Homo sapiens: one gene and its partner. The protein of the gene in region 2 purifies or fractionates together with the protein of the main gene of each other region. This does not show direct contact. Each region holds a gene or a part of one and is shown on either strand. Other genes may lie near its edges. The genes, in order: POTEE and CCR2.

Region 1 (8,420 bases), on a different chromosome or scaffold from region 2:
TCCTGAAAGCCAAGTGAAGACGCCATTAGGGAGGAGATGCCCTCCATTGGCTCAAATATTGCTGACAGATTAAATGAGGTGTAAGAAAAATGCCTAGATTTAGTACAGAAAAAAATTAGTGATAATCTTGAGGAAAAATAGTTCTGGAGGAGTGCTGAAATTGAAGACTTACCGGCATTGAGATCAAGAGTGAATGGAAAGAAAATTTGAGTTCATGAGTGTAGACAGTTCTTTAAGGACAATATACTTAACGCTCATGACTGAGAATGATGTAATTTTCATCCACAGTCATGGAAAAGTGATAGACAAGAAATAGTAGCTTCCAAATTTTACATACCAGGTGGAGTTTTCAAATTTTATGTAACCATTATATATTCTAAAGGTTATAAAAATTATACACATATGGCATTTAGAAATGTCAGACCAAGGTTTTAAAGGCCCTTTGAACATTTCTAGATTACATAAGCTGATTATCATTTTGTTCATGCTTATACATAAAGACCAAGAAATACTAAAACTCTCAAGGAGAATATTTCTTGCTTGATAAAAATCAGCCAATTCTAGGACAGTTGACACTCATCAAATATACGAAGTAATTGATCACAGTAAAATACTGAGTTCTATTAACAGGAATAAAGTGGGAGAAATGCAGAAAATAATCTTATTTTATAAATGTAGTTTTCCAAATCATATGAAGTCACTGGAAAAATATGGTGAGGTGAATACTGAAATATATCCTTTTCTCAAAGGGAGGATAATGTCACACATGCAGGGCACTTTTACAAATAAAAGTCACTGCATTAGCAGCACCTTCCTTTTAGCACAAGGGTCAGCAAATAAGCACCTGTGGGCCAAATCCAGCCCACTGCCCGTTTTTGTAAGTCAAGTATCTTGGAACACAGCCATGCTTATTCACTTTACAGTCCATAGTGTCAGTTAGCTGGGTGTGATGTTGCACACCCGTGGTCTCAGCTAGTAGAGACTGAGGTCAGAGGATCACTAGAGCCCAGAAAGTCGAGGCTGCAGTCAGCCATGATCACACAACTGCACTCCAGCCTGGGAAACAGAGTGAGACCCTGTCTCAAGAAAATCAATATATGTAGTCCACAAAGCCTAAAATATTTACTAACTAGCTCTTTGCAGAAAAAGCTGGCCAACTCCTGGTTTAGTAGATCAAAGATTCTTTGATGTATTTTAATAAAAGTTTTACCAAATATACTGAAATGTTTATATTAAATATAGATCCCCATGTACAATCGCTTGGCAATATTCAGATTGAGGGTCCAATATTTCAGCACTCAGGCACTGACAACAAAAATTTAGTAACTAGCAATCTTGTTGCTAACAAGGTACAGTGTCAATGTAGCATGTAGCTTCCATTTGCAACACAGCAGATATTACAAGAATTTTAACAAGAACTCTTAAGATGTGTCATCAAACTAAACGCTTTAAATACATTTTAATTGTGAAATAATCAGTATACCCTACATCTAACCTCATTTTTTAAAAATGGTTGCATAATACATTATTTTGGGGATATGGAAATTGAGCTATTTCCTATTGATAAGGAATTAGACTAGCTCCAAATTTTTTACATAATACTATAATAAATGTCCTTATACATAAGTATACATATAACATATCTATACAAATATCCTTTACATGTATTATATATGCTTACTGTTATATATGTGTGTGTGAATATGCTACTCAATTAATGTTCAAAATGTATTTACCAACAGTATATGAAATGTCTTTTTCAATGAAACCATTTCCCCTGCAGCAACACGGATGGAGCTGGAGGCCATTATCCTAAGAAAACTCATGCAGGAACAGAAAATCAAATGCCACATATTCTTACTCATTAGCGGGAACTAAACATGAGAACTCATGGACACAAAGAGGAGAATAACATACACTGGGGCCTACTTGAGGGAGGAGCATGGCAGGAGGGAGACGACCAAAAAACTACCTTTCGAGTATTTTGTTTACTATGTGGCTGGTGAAATAATCTGTACCCCAAGCCTCCATGATACAGTTTACCTATATAATAAACCTGCACACGTACCCCGAAGCTAAAATAAAAGTTCACTGAAAAGAGAAGAAAATGCCTTTTCCCTCACATTTGCCAATACTGGTTATTTTTCAAATAAATTAATGACTGGAAAAAAAACGGTAACTGATTGTTTGCTGATTTTCATTTTTCTGATTAACAGGCAAGGCTCAATATCCTAATAAAAGTATAAAATTTGTTCATCATGAATATTAGCTCAAATTAGGATTAGTTTGGCAGCACAAAGTTACCTCCTGTTCAATGTTGCCATAGGCTTACCTGTGATACTCTTCATTCTCAGTGTCAGGAAATTGCTGGCTTTCAGGTGTTCTGCTCTTCCTTGGAGGAATTAATCCATCATCACCATTGCCAGCAGTGGCACCATTAGTCAGGTTTTCTGGGAATCCGACATGAGTACTTCCGTGCTTCTTCATTTCTTCGATAGCCATAAAATTTTCTAGCTGGAAAATACAGAGAATAAGAAATTATCTACTTTAGGCACATTATCTATTGATAATCAGACTAAAACCAAGAAAGATAAAATAATTGGTCTAAAGCTCCTAAAGTGGCATTACCTAGCATTTTATGGCACCATTCGGGATTATTCCATAATAATGAAAGAATAGCTCTAGGGTTTGCACCTCTTCAAAATTCAATGTACAGAATTCTGAGTTAACTATTTAATTTTTCACTGATGATTTATGCTACTTACATGATAGGATCATGTATGCCTACATTTACTACACTTTGTTAAACAACATAATGTAAAAATCTAATTCAACACAAACGTTTGAATATAAAGGTATACCTCTCTATCACCATCCTTATTTATTTCTGGTTCTTGAGATCTTTTCTGCAGATGTAAAAACAGAAGGTTAATTTGCTTGCTGTATTTCTGTGACATTTCCTCTTTTGGAGTGCATGTTTTTAAAATAATTTTATTCTGAAGTAATCAAGTATGGACAATAAAAATTAGAAAGTAATTAAAATTAAACTGTTAAAATAAATAATAATTAAAATTAAGAATTAACTTTTTAATCTATGTTTAGCTACTGCCACATCACTGGCTTCTAACATGTGAAAAATAATTCACCTTAGACAAAGGGAGAAGAAAAACATGAACCAGCAAACTTAACTTTCTCACTATTTGTTTGGACTAAATTTAATTTGTTATGTGTTAAATCTACCAAAAATGAATCAGCAGATGATTTGTAGTGTTCCAAAATCTTCCTCACTTGAAAAGAGTTTACCTCATGAAACCCTAACTAGTGAGCACCTACAGTGCACTGAAGTGCTTTTTTAAAAGATTCCTAACTGGATTGTAGGCACCCTTTAAACTATTAGGAGCCGAAATCAACACCAAACAGAAAGAAATGCAAATTCTCACATTTTAATTGAAATTATATACTGTCATATGATAGTGTTATGTATCCAGATTATCTGCGTAAGTCCAGTTCTAATATATTCTAATGTGTACTAATGACAGCAGATAAAATTTTTTAATCTCTACTGATTTTCTGCAACTGAAATAAATTAGAATGTTATTGTGTTTGTGCACTAACACCAAAGGTCCCATTCTGCAAGATATGGTTCTTGTAATAGGCAGTTGGGTTGCTTTTATGACCTGGTTCCCTCCCTGAACAGAAACACTGAGGTCAACGAGAGACCACAAGGCAGGATATGTCCTTAACCTTGGTATCAGTGACTGACAATATAAAACTGTGGATTTTCAATCACAGGCCATGATTACTCTTTAACCATGAATCCAGCTCAGGGAATCAGTGTTACATTGTTCATAATTCCTATTGCTTAATAATATGATTCAATCATTGATGTTACTTTCTTTATCATGTTAGGGTGTTGTAAAAATAAAAGAACAAACAAAGTTCTGAAATTTGTTTTTGCCTCTATTCCAAAAGGAGAGATTAGCTATAAGCTAATCAAGAAGGCAGATAAGAATATTTTAAAATAAGAGTATTTTAAATTTTATAGTGGGTTATGTTGAAGTTAAATATCAAATATTAAATTAGAATCTATTGATTCTTCTGTTAATAAGGTTGCTGATTTTATTACAATAAATTTTAAGAATCTATTAAAATTTTTTTTTTTTTTTTTCACATGGAGTCTCGCTCTGTCACCCAGGCTGGAGTGTAGTGGTGGATGTCGGCTCACTGCAAGCTCCCTCTCCTGGGTTCATGCCATTCTCCTGCCTCAGCCTCCCGAGTAGCTGGGACTACAGGCACCCACCACCACGCCCAGCTAAGTTTTTGTATTTTTACTAGAGACGGGGTTTCACCATGTTAGCCAGGATGGTCTCGATCTCCAGACCTCGTGATCCACCTGCCTCAGCCTCTCAAAGTGCTGGGATTACAGGCGTGAGCCACCTTGCCTGGCCAAAAGATTCTTAAAAAAACAATCTACTGATTCTCAAAGCCTAGTCTGAAAGGTAATTTCATTTGGACTATCTAATATTATTAAGGCAAAAAAAACACAACATTAAACAAAAGTTTAAATTTAAAAGTTTCCATGCCTCTGGCTGGCCATTTTCACTGCCTTTAAGCCTTTGTGACTCTTCCTCTGATGTCAGCTTTAAGTCTTGTTCTGTTGAAAAATCCATACATTCAGTTAAAATCAACCACTTAAAACAGTTAAAAACTATTGCCTTTTAAAAACAGATTTGAGACATTTCATTTTATTTCATAAATTGAGTGTTTCATCTTTTGTGAAATTGTCATTTAAGAAATAATTCTCAAAAACTTCAAAAACCCACTTGGGGAGATAGCAGATGTCACCAGATTGAAGACAAACAAACATGTCAAAAATTCCCTCACAAATTCATCCACCCAACATCCATGAACAAAACCACCAGAAACACAGCTTTAAAATACAGTAGAAACATATAAGGTGACACAGTGTACTGTTCTCCACTTCCTAATAGTACCTTATAAATGATTTCCAAAATCACTGCTGACACCTTTATTAGTGTACAACATCTTCCTAATATCTAAAATGTTTCTCTCCACTATTCTGACAAATTTATTTTCTTTTTTTCTTTTTTCTTTTTTTTTTTTTATGAGCTAGAGTCTTCCTCTGTCACCAGGCTGGAATGCAGTGGTGTGATCAGCTCACTGCAACCTCCGCGACCCTGGTTCAAGTGATTCTCCTGCTTCAGTCTCCTGAGTAACTGTGATTACAGGCAAGCACCACCACACCCAGCTGATTTTTGTATTTTTAGTAGAGATGGGGTTTCACCATTGGACAGGATGGTCTCGATCTCCTGACCTCGTGATTCCCTCTGAAAGTGCTGGGATTACAGGTGTGAGCCACCACACCTGGCCTTATTTTCATCTTTTGAAACAATGCTATATGAAGTTTTCCTTGATTCTGCATGTCTTTCCCCAAATAAACAGGTACCTCCTTCCTTGAGGCTGCCTTAGTACTTTACTGATTTTTCTACTGCATCTTGACCACCTAAACTGTACATTATTCCTCCACGTCTGTCCCCTCTGCTCCAAGACTGCAGGGGAGAGTCTTGCACATCATCTTTGTAAAAACAGTCTTTGTTTTACTCAGAAATATTTTATTGAGTCCTGCTAAATACATGCTAGGCATTAGGGTTTAAAAAGAATTAAAATAAAGCATGTCAGAGATGGCTTTTCTAGAACACATGCCCAAGCAGAGACTTAAATATTGAGACTAGCCAGATTAAAAGGTGTAGAGGGCAGGAAAGGGTGACGGCATGCCACGCAGCAGCAAGAGCGGGAGCGACTCCTGAAAGAGTGAAAGTATTTGCCTACAATAGAAGGATGAGTGAGTAGGGCACTGCCAGCAGTTCAGTAATGCCAGAGACAGGGCACACAGGGAAAAGGGCTAAAGATGGAGAGTGGGGCAGAAGTCAGATTATGAAAGCATTATGTGTAATTTTAAGATGCTTGAACATTAATGTTCAAAAGTGGTCCCGGGTCCTATCTGCATTTAGATATAGATCATTTCAATGCCAAAACCAATATTCCTAGTGAACAATTATTCATTAAGACAAGGTGACAGATAGCTCATGTGGACACAGCTGAGATGATACAATGTAGCAAATTCTAAACAATTCTCATGAACACTTGGAAAGTCAGTTCTATAATAAAGTCATACAAATTATAATAAATCAGTAAATATTTGGTTTCGGAAGATGCTTTGTAAAGTTATAATGCATATGAATACAATTAACAGTCGTGAATTCAGAGCTGTGAAAATAAATCAAAGAAACCACATTGTGTTTGAGTCAGCAATCTTTAGATTTCTATCCAGTCTTCCCATCCAGTCCATAAATTCTAAGTATAATCCTGGTACTCACTCTCAAGTTTACGTTAAATACTATCCCATTACAAAAAAACACTCTTTCTCTTACTTCTTTTCATTATGTCCTGCTAAAAAGATTCTGATTGGCTGCAGGCGGCAAGAGGGAAAAACACAAAGCACATTTTGCAGAAAATGATTATTTAGAAGTCAGAACTATGACATGAAGCCAAGCAGGGCACTCTAGGACCGAATTTGCTGTGCTGCCTTCATACGCTCCTTGCTCTTTCTTTTCTGGCAGCTGTGACTCACACAGGTCATGGAGAGTATCATTCCCTAAGAGGAACAACTCCGATATTCATCTTTATCTATTAAGTTCATCTGTCCCAATTCTGTGTTCTGTGGATGCTGACTTTCTGTCACGGACGATGATGCACATGGACATTTATTACTGACTTTCAGATTCTTGGATCTTTGACAAGTCTTATTACTTAGAGTCAAACTAGTAGGATGCGAGTTATAAATGCTGATTATCCAATTACCTACTCAAAATACCCTACACGAATATTCCATTAAACATGCATCGAAAAACATTAGTCATTCCTGCTGACCTGCTGCTCTTTGCTCTTCTGTATTCACCAGAAAATTTCCTACTCCTTCCTCATGTCCAGGTTAAATACTAGTGTGCAATCTGGAAACCTGTACATCATCTGAGATTTCTCTCTGTCCCCCAAGCCTTTCTCATTCAATTATCACTAAATCATATTGACTATACCTCTCTTCTGCCTCTGTTTTATATTCCCACTGCCACTGGGAACACAAACATTTACAAAATGACTTCTATTTAAAAGAAAACTGCCAACTATTAATGTTATTTCTTACAGGAAAAAAAATTAAGCAAAACAAGTGAAAAGGGCATAACGAAGGCCAACATAGTAAAATGAGTAACTGAGATTTCTAACGTTATTTATTTCACCATGGACGGGTGAAAACCTTGTAATACATTGATGCTACTCCAAGGATGTGTGACATGGAAACTATAGCTGACTACTGCAAAAGCTTCCTTTGTCTCCTGGTTTCTTTGCATGATTATCTCCCATCAATCCCAGGAAACTATAGGCCACAGGCCAAATCCAATCTGCATTATGGTTTTGTAAATAAAGTTTTATAGGAGCTCAGTCATGCCTGTTTGCTTACATATAATCATGGTGGCTTTCACACTACAACAGCAGACAACAGCACGGTTAAGTAGATATGACAGAGACCACATAGTCCAAAATATTTCCCACCTGGTCCTTTAAAGAAAAAGCTTGCTAACCCATTTTACACCATAACCAGAATGCCTTAATACTCAAATTTAATCTTGTGGCTCCCCTGCTCAAATTTCTCCAATGAGCCCCCTCCAGCACACATTGTTGGCTCCCTATCAATAGCCATTCCTCATTCTTTCTGGCAGAAAAAACATAAGTCTATTGGGATATTTAATATCCCAATCCCCCTCCTCAGCCTCAGAAAGAAATGTTTATTCTAAGCTAATCAGATATTTACCTTCCCAGTGCCTGGTTTGGGAATGAGCATGTGGTATGACCCAGCCAATGAAATGTTACAGGAAGCCCCTTGCATGCTTCTAAGTTTTCTCCCTGTTTAAAAGACACATGTGAAGAAAAGCAGCCCTTTCGATGTTGTGTTGTGAAAACAAGATGTTTGGAGCTGCTGCAGATTAGCCAACCACAAAAGGAGACGTGAATAAAACACTGTCAACAGCACAGCTGAAAGAGGGACAAGTGGGATCCCTAGGATATCAATGAACAAAAAAACAACTCTGGTTCCTAGTGTTTTAGGCACTGCTCATCTAGTATTTGCAGTCCAAAGCATTCTACCTGGTAAATTTCCCATGGCCCACAGGAAAAGACCTACTCATTTCTATAGTATTAAAAAGTCTATCGTAAACTTGCCTTAGCTAAGTATTCACCTCACTCCCAACCTCTGGTATCTCACACTTTTGGTACTAGCAAAAGTGAACTGCTCAGAAACCCTGCCATGTTCACTCAAGCATCTTGTCTTCTGCACTTGCTGCTCT
Region 2 (8,353 bases):
CACCATCAGTTGGGCTCAACTCCAATCAGTCATGGTAGGTCAGGGTCCATCTCATTGTCTCCATCACTCATGCCCACCCAGGGTAAGTCTAATCATGTTCACCAATCAGAACCTCTGCCACATCAGCTCTGTGGGTTTCCTCTCATGCCATCTGTACCAACAATGAGCACAGTCTGGGTTTCCTGATGTTTTCTATAGCATGGTGCCCCTCCCTGGGACACCTCAGAAGCCACAATGATATTCATTAAACTTCTTCCTGCAAGTACTCCCTCTATTGCTCCTTCTACTCACCAAGCTTAGTGTCAGGGAATATGCTGGTGGGGAGTATGAATCTTAGCTTCTCACTCCCAGACTCGGCTCCCAACCTGCTGTTGCCAAGTCTTGGGGACATCTATAAATGCCTTCTAAATACCTGTCTTGGCCTATCCCCAGCCACAGATTCCTCCCTAGAGCAGGCTACCTCTGAGGCATCTATACTGAGATCTTAATCACAGAGACATTTAAAACATCTAGGCTACAAAAGAATTCCTACTATAGGGTTCAAATGAATTTCTTTCCGTCACTTGAGACAGCTTTTTAGCAAGTACATGTATTAAAGATTCTGATTTCCCCTTTTTTCTCCTACAGTTTGTTTGGCCTAAAGGTATGACATCTAATCTGCTGCATTTACACTCTAAGTCAAAATTACCATTTTGTTCTTTTAATTTCTATTTCTAATCATACATTCTTGTCTACTCCTGGTTCATCTGGAGACAAAGTTGAACTTAGAAGATGGAGGAGAAATTCTTATCTGCCCTCTGCTAGTTGACACTTCCTTTCCAAGAATCATTTGCAGTTGCTGGGCTTTCTTGCTGTGACTCTATGCCCTGTTGTGTTACTTTTTCATTTGTGACAAAAACAGTGGTAATAGTTTGCTTCATTTTTATTATGAAGACTTGACCAGGATAGGTAGGAACATAATTACTGCTTTTTCTGTGGGCATCATATTGGTCCAGATCATGTTTAACCAGAATTGAAGATGTAAAATCCTAGAACTCACTAATCTATTTTAGTAGGTCACAGGAAGCATGCAAACCATAAAAACCGCAATGAACCAAAAGCATCTGTGTTGACAAGAGGCAAGAATTTCTCTATTTTCTAAAGGCACTAACTGAACAAATCTATTGCCCATTACTTAGGAAATTGCTAAGGGCATCGTTAAAGTACTTCAGGCTGTTGAAAAACCTTTTCTGTCTTCTTGCCCCACCACCAATTCTCTCTAGCTATGCTTTCTCTCACATGTTCTTGCCATCCATGGAGTGGCAGAGAGGTTCTGAGTACAACTCTAACTTTCAGTTTCAATGGCCTAATCCCCAACTCAACTGCTGACCTTGAGTGTAAAAATAAACAAGATCTTAAACATCTTAGGGCCAGCATTCTGGGTCTTCTTTTGTTATTTGGGGAGCATAAACTATTCTCATATCATTGGCTTGCAGAAAAATTGAGCTTCTCCTCTTCCTTGCCCCATGTCACCTTGAGGTGACCACAGCCCTGCCTTCTATGTAATCCTGCTTGGTCAGCAGGCACATCAGAGCTCAGTGGCTTGTGACATACTTTCCTTCAAGCCTGCTCGAAGGGCCATACTCATCATTGAGACTGGGAACCTTAGAAACCATGAACCCAGTGCCAATGGGTAGATACAGAATTCTCAAACTCATGAAAAAACATCCTTTTTAACTCTCTCCGTGTGCATAAAGAATTCTAAGATGTACTGATCAAGATTCCCAATTTTCTAACTATCTATTAATATATGGACGAGGTAAGAAGAAAGTTGCAAGAAAAAAATTTGTTTGACTTGACGGTTGTGTGGTTATTTGCCACACTCCCCCAGATCCACTCTGAGTCCCAGGATGCTGATTTTAGGGGCTACATTGCCTAGACTGTCCATTATTCCCTCTTCCCATCTGGTTCAGTCACTGGGAAGCACTGGTAGGAGGTCAGAGTGGGAGAAGGAGGTTAGGATACTTTCTGCCCCTGCTGTCCTACTGCTTTGCTGAACTTCTAGCAGTGGCTGAGCCATCAACCTGCAGCTCTCAATTCCAGCTGTCTGTAGCACTCAAGTGGTATTGTTTATTCTTTTGATCCTTCTAGCTGTTAAGGAAGAAAAAAATAATTTTTTCCTCAATGCTCATAAGTTCTTGGAATGGACCCCTGTAACAAAAGACAGATTAACACGAGAAAAGTTTATTAACGTACATATTTTATACGTACATAGGAGCTATCCAGGGAATGAATAATTCTTAAAAAGGTGACTTTGAATTCCAGCTCATATAGCATCTTCAACAAAGTTCAGTAACATTTTAGAGATATGACAAGACAAAGAAAATGAACTTTGAGCCTCTAGGGACAGTGACTTGTAGGAAGGCAAAAGGAATAAATGGAGGTAAAGGCTGGTTAGTAATACTTGTTAATGAAGATTCCTCTGGTGCCATCTCCAGGTCCACAAGGATTTAAATTTGTCTTCAGTGGTGAACCTTTGTTCACCCTGGCAGAAGGTGTGGAGGGGGGTGCAGATCCGTTTTGTCTTTGTAAGTCTATATCCTGCTTTTAGACAAATAAAGGGAGGGAAAAGAGCTTTCCTTCATCTGCTTCTTAATTGCCTTCAGCTCAACAATCCTTATGCAAAAGAGGTACATTTTAGGGTGTCAAATTCTGGTCTCCCACAAAGCATAGGGATGACAGACCACCTCACCATCCCTGTTGCTTCTTTTAAGCCTGCTCACCCCTCCAAAAATATTTTCATTCTATACTGTCTCTTCAAAATCTCAGCGGAGGGTGCCCTCTGTTATCCTGCCCTCTGTGTCAGTATAAGCCAAAGGTTTGAATCCTGGCTCTGCAACTATCTACCTCTGTGCCTCTCCTTGTTTATGAAATTACAGGGCTGGAGACAAAGATCACAATGTGAAGACAAAATTGGAGAGCGGTCCTAATCAGCCAGAGCAAAATTTCTGGCTCTTGCTCTTCCCCATCCTGGGTTGAATCATAGGAACAGGTGGCAAGATGCCAGGGTCAGGAGATTCCAGAAGTGGCAGCAAGCTCAGTGTTACCAGGTCAGGGATGACCTGTCTTATTATTGAAATCTCAGAGATATGCTCCAATTCCGGCCCAGAGACACATTGAGAGACAACTGGGGAACTTGCTATGTTCCTGAACAGGCAATGAGCTGTCTTCCAAGAAAAAACCTGAGACCCTTCAAGTCTCAGGTCTTACTTAGCACATATACCAGGTCTTACACAGGACACATGGTTACAACTGACTGAAATCTGGGCTGGGTGTAGGAGCTCACACCTGTAATCCCAGCCCTTCAGGAGGCTGAGGCAGGCAGATTGCCTGAGCCCAGGAGTTCGAGACCAGCCCGGGCAACATGACAAAACCCCATCTCTACAAAAAATAGTCAGGCATGGTGGCATGCACCTGTAGTCTCAGCTACTTGGGAGGCTGAGATGAGAGGATTGCTTGAGGTTGAGACTGCAGTGAAGCATGATCATGCCACCGCACTCCAGCCTAGGCAACAGAGCAAGATCTTGTCGCAAAAGAAAGCAAAAACACAACATAACACAACAACAACAACAACAACAACAACAGCAAAAAAGCCAACTTCTTGAAATCTGGAAAGGACACCTGGACTGCCCTGAGCATTTGATTGTTGTTGGCTCTAGCAGTGGATGCATCCTTCAACCTCTGGCACTCTGCAGGGCTCAGACTGTTCTGTTCTGTTTGTTACCTGTGGAGTGCCTGCCAGACCCTGCTCTAGCTGCTTTAGGTCCATTTACCCTCATAGACCCCCAGTCTTGTTATTCATATTTCATATTTGGGAAATGGAAACTTAGAAACTTGCCAAGTCCACAGCATGAGATCCTGCCTCCGGTGTCTGCTGGATTCCAGAAAGTGCCAGGGGCCAACTTAGATGACACCATGTTCTCTGCACAATCTTAGGAATGCTCCTAGTCTGATGTCCCCATTGCAAAATTTACATTATCTTTTAACAAAACGTCTTTCCAAGGAGGGGCATTTAAAATAACTGAGGTTCTTCTTGCTAAGGACGTTCCTGACACAAGAGATAATTTAGCATTTCCTTTTCATTAAAAAGTTTGAAATCCTGTAATTTGTGATAATGTGGATGAACCTAGAGGATGTTAAGTGAAATAAGCCACACACAGATAGACAAATACCACGTGATCTCACTCTTATGTGGAATTTTTTTTTAAATAAGTTGCTTAGCCGGGCATGATGGCACACACCTGTAATCCTAGCTACTCAGGAGGCTGAGGTGGGAGGATGGCTTGAACTCAGAAGGTGGAGGTAGCAGTGAGCTGAGACTGTGCCAGTGCACTCCGGTCTGGGTGACAGAATGAAACCCAATTTAAAAAAAAAAAAAAAGTTGCTATCTTAGAAAAAGACAGTAGAGCAGTGGTTACCAGAGACTGGGGAGGAAAGAGAGGAGGTGAGAATGGGCAGCAGTTGATCAACGGGTACAAAGTTACCATGAGATAGGAGAAACAAGTGCTGGTGCTCTGCTCCAAGTAGGGTGACGGTAGTTAATAATGAATTCTGTATATATAAATAGCTAGAAGAGAGGGTTTTCAATATCATTATTATTTCAAAAGAAATGATAAATGTTTCAGAGGATGGATATGTAATTACCCTGATTTGATCATTGCACAATGTATACATGTAGCAAAACATCACATTGTGTCCCATAAATATATACAATTATTATGTGAATTAAATAAAAAAAAATTTTAAAGTCTTATCTAAATGAAATTTCTAACCAGATTCTGAATCCATGATACCACTGAAACCAGCACACATGATCGCAGTAAAACCTCATTATACTTCCTCCACTATCACCAATACCCTTTATTCTCTGGAACATGAAACATTCTGTTGTGCTCATATCATGCAAATTATCACTAGTAGGAGAGCAGAGAGTGGAAATGTTCCAGGTATAAAGACCCACAAGATAAAGAAGCTCAGAGTCGTTAGAAACAGGAGCAGATGTACAGGGTTTGCCTGACTCACACTCAAGGTTGCATAAGCAAGATTTCAAAATTAATCCTATTCTGGAGACCTCAACCCAATGTACAATGTTCCTGACTGGAAAAGAAGAACTATATTTTTCTGATTTTTTTTTTCAAATCTTTACCATTAGTTGCCCTGTATCTCCGCCTTCACTTTCTGCAGGAAACTTTATTTCCTACTTCTGCATGCCAAGTTTCTACCTCTAGATCTGTTTGGTTCAGTTGCTGAGAAGCCTGACATACCAGGACTGCCTGAGACAAGCCACAAGCTGGTGAGTTGTAGGCATTTTTTCCATTACTTTCTGATTCATAGGCTCAACGCACCTCAAAGCTGGAAATGCCGGGTCTGGGTACACCCTGGGGAACTGCAAAGCCTGCACACTTGGGGGGAATGATCAAGATGAGAGGCAGGGGTGGGGATGGCATGTGCACCAGGAGATGTTAGAGAAACCCTGAGGAAGAGCAGCGTGCAGCAGGTGATGGGGGAGAGTGGGCAGCAAGCGAGGCCAGGACAGCCACTCTGCTCAGTCACCAGTCCACACACCCAGGGGCTCACTCTGCCCCTCTGAGCACCCAAGGACGTTAAAGAGCTGGAACTGTTAGTCTAAATATAGGACCATCCAAGCTCTGAACCAAAATGTGTCCCTTGCCTCAACTCAGGAGATCCACAGAGGCAGAAGTAAGGAATTTATTTTCTGAAAGATAGATTTCTATCAGTTCTGGGTGACATGTTCTGACACTTGAAATGACACCTAGGACAGCACATTTCAGGCATCTTGCTCATTGTTCACTGTAGTAGAAGCTACATGCTAGCCAGTTGTAAAAATGAAATTAAGTAATGTGTGCACAGCATTTAACATAGCATCTGAGCTTCAGGAGCACTCAATTAATGACCACAGTTGTGATTCTTTAGGCAGATGCATTTTTTTCCAACTTTGATCAGAGGTCTTATTTAGCTTCTCCAGATTTCAAGAATCTGGCTCAGTGATATGAAATACAAGACTTGTGAAAAGTGTCAATTGCAAGAGAAATGGAAGGATAAAGTATACAGGTGGGTGGAAAAGAAATTCACAGTCACTGCCAGAAAAAAAATTCTTGAGAATCAAGTCCTGATGATGTTAGGGCTTATAGTTCTTATTATAAAGAGTTTTATGTACTCATTCAGTGAACATTTATTGGTGCCTCCTTTAGCCAGGTACTATCATAAGAGCTGAAAATAGAAGCATAATCCAGTCCTTGATCTTGAGGAACATGCTGTGTGTAGCAGATAACATAATAAGTGCTTATCTAGATGCATGCAGTGTTATGTGATAAGAGTAATATGACAGAGGATACAGATTAGGCTTCACAGAGAAGGGGGATTTGAGCAGGAGGTATTGAAGGGTGAATAGAAGCTCACCAATCATTTTGGGCAGAGGGGCAAGGACCTGCAAAACCACTGAAGCATGAAGGAAATGGTGAGTTTAGGGAAAATGAAGAGAAGATGGCTGTGACTGAAGCACAGGATTTGGGATTGGAGAAGGGACTGGAGGTGAGGCTGAAAAGAGGCAAACTCAGAAAAGATGTTGTGCTGGGCAGTCTGGACATTATCTTTGAAGCCCACCACATATAAGTCATAGGGCTACTGGAGGTTTTAAGCTAAGAGTGACTATTCAATTTCAACTTAAGAGAAGATAGGTTGAGAGGGAACATGGCTTGAGATGAGCCATGAGCAAAGGAAAGACTACAACAAAGCCAGGAGTGAGGAGTGTGTGAAGCAAGAAAGTGACAGTTGAAAGCAGTGCAGAGGGGATGAATCTGAGAGGCATCTATGAGGTGGAACTCAAATGACATGATAATAATACAGGGCATTTCTCTGTGTCAGATGCTGTCCTAAGTCCTTACTCCATTGATCTTCACAGCAACTCAGCATAGTTAATATTTTATGCATAAAGAAATCGGCACTTGAAGGAGTAATTGGCCCCAGATTACACTGCCTATAAGGATTCAAATCCAGGTTTGTTTGGCTCCAAAAACTGGCTCCTAATTTTCAGAAGGAGAAGCAACCCAGGGCAATGCCCAATTTTGCTTCTTAGGCAATGGAGGAATCCACAATCGGAAGGAGTTTTCAGCAGTGCCCCATTTGGGGTGGGTTGAATTTGAGGTCCCTGCATGATACCCACTTTGCTCACTTCAGTGCCTAAAACTGAGTATGGTTCATAGTAGGTGTTCAATAAGTGTTGATGCAGTGAATACATGCATGGGGAGATATGCATCAGGCAATGGGAAATTCAACTCTAAGGCTTAGGGGAAAGCTGGAGCTTGAAGACAGAGCTTTAGAAAACAGTAGCATAGAAGGGAGTAGGAACCATGAGTTTAGACAATACAATTCAGGAAGAACTTTGTAGCAAGGATAAAGAGGCAAAAAATTAAAGAGGTGAGAGCTAAGTGTGGTGCCTGGGGAATCTTAAGGTGTGGGCACGGGGAGGAGATGCCAGCAAAGAACATGAATAAAAAGCGGTAGCACAGCCCCTCCCATCTGGAAGCCAAAAAGAATTGTAAATGGAGGAAGTTAGCAGAAGGATCAAATACTTGAAGAGGGTGGAATTGGAATAAAACCAGGGCATTTGAAAAATTGGGTTGTCACTGCAATCTTAACAAGAGAAGTTTTGGCAGGATGATGGAGGCAGAAAGCTGAGAGAATCATCAGTTAGAACGTTTTTGACTTCAGAGAACAGAAAATGCAGTTCATAATGGCTTTAAAACAGGGGCTTGTTTTTCTCCCAGCAATTTGAGAGGCCAAGGCGGGTGCATCAGGAGGTCAAGAGACCGAGACCATCCTGGCCAACATGGTGAATCCCCATCTCTACTAAAAATACAAAAATTAGCGGGGCATGGTGGTGCACGCCTATAGTCCCATCTACTCAGGAGGCTGAGGCAGGAGAATCACTTGAACCCAGGAGGTGGAGGTTGCAGTGAGCTGAGATCATGGCCACTGCACTATAGCCTGGAGACACAGCGAGACTCCGTCTCCAAAAAAAAAAAAAAAAGAAGGCAGAAGGTGAATAGTTCAAGGGTGGGTTTAGGACTCAGTGATAATAGGATTCTGCCTGGCTTCTCATGGTTCTCTAGGTCTTCCATTCATGGCACCATGCCCTCACTAGGCATGCTGCCAGAGCAGGAGGGGCAGGTGGAGGGTTCTCTTGTGTCTGTCTTATCAGGGAAGAAGAGCTTTCTCAGAAGCCCCCAGCAGACTCCCTTTTCATATTATGGTCCAGCAATGAGTCACAGACCTATGCACCACCTGCAAAGGA

What was found.
Region 1: the proteins of CCR2 (region 2) and POTEE purify together in Homo sapiens (affinity purification with mass spectrometry; 2 studies listed by BioGRID and IntAct, with this or other methods). This does not show direct contact.

What each region holds. Positions count from the first base shown.
Region 1 is NC_000002.12:131,247,012-131,255,431, reverse strand, and holds part of POTEE (POTE ankyrin domain family member E), read right to left. Parts: intron 4,655-8,420; coding exon 4,584-4,654; intron 2,907-4,583; coding exon 2,862-2,906; intron 2,515-2,861; coding exon 2,333-2,514; intron 1-2,332.
Region 2 is NC_000003.12:46,348,846-46,357,198, forward strand, and holds the start of CCR2 (C-C chemokine receptor type 2), read left to right. Parts: upstream 1-5,265; 5' UTR 5,266-5,332; intron 5,333-8,353. UniProt on the Homo sapiens protein: Key functional receptor for CCL2 but can also bind CCL7, and CCL12. Also transduces signaling mediated by CCL13.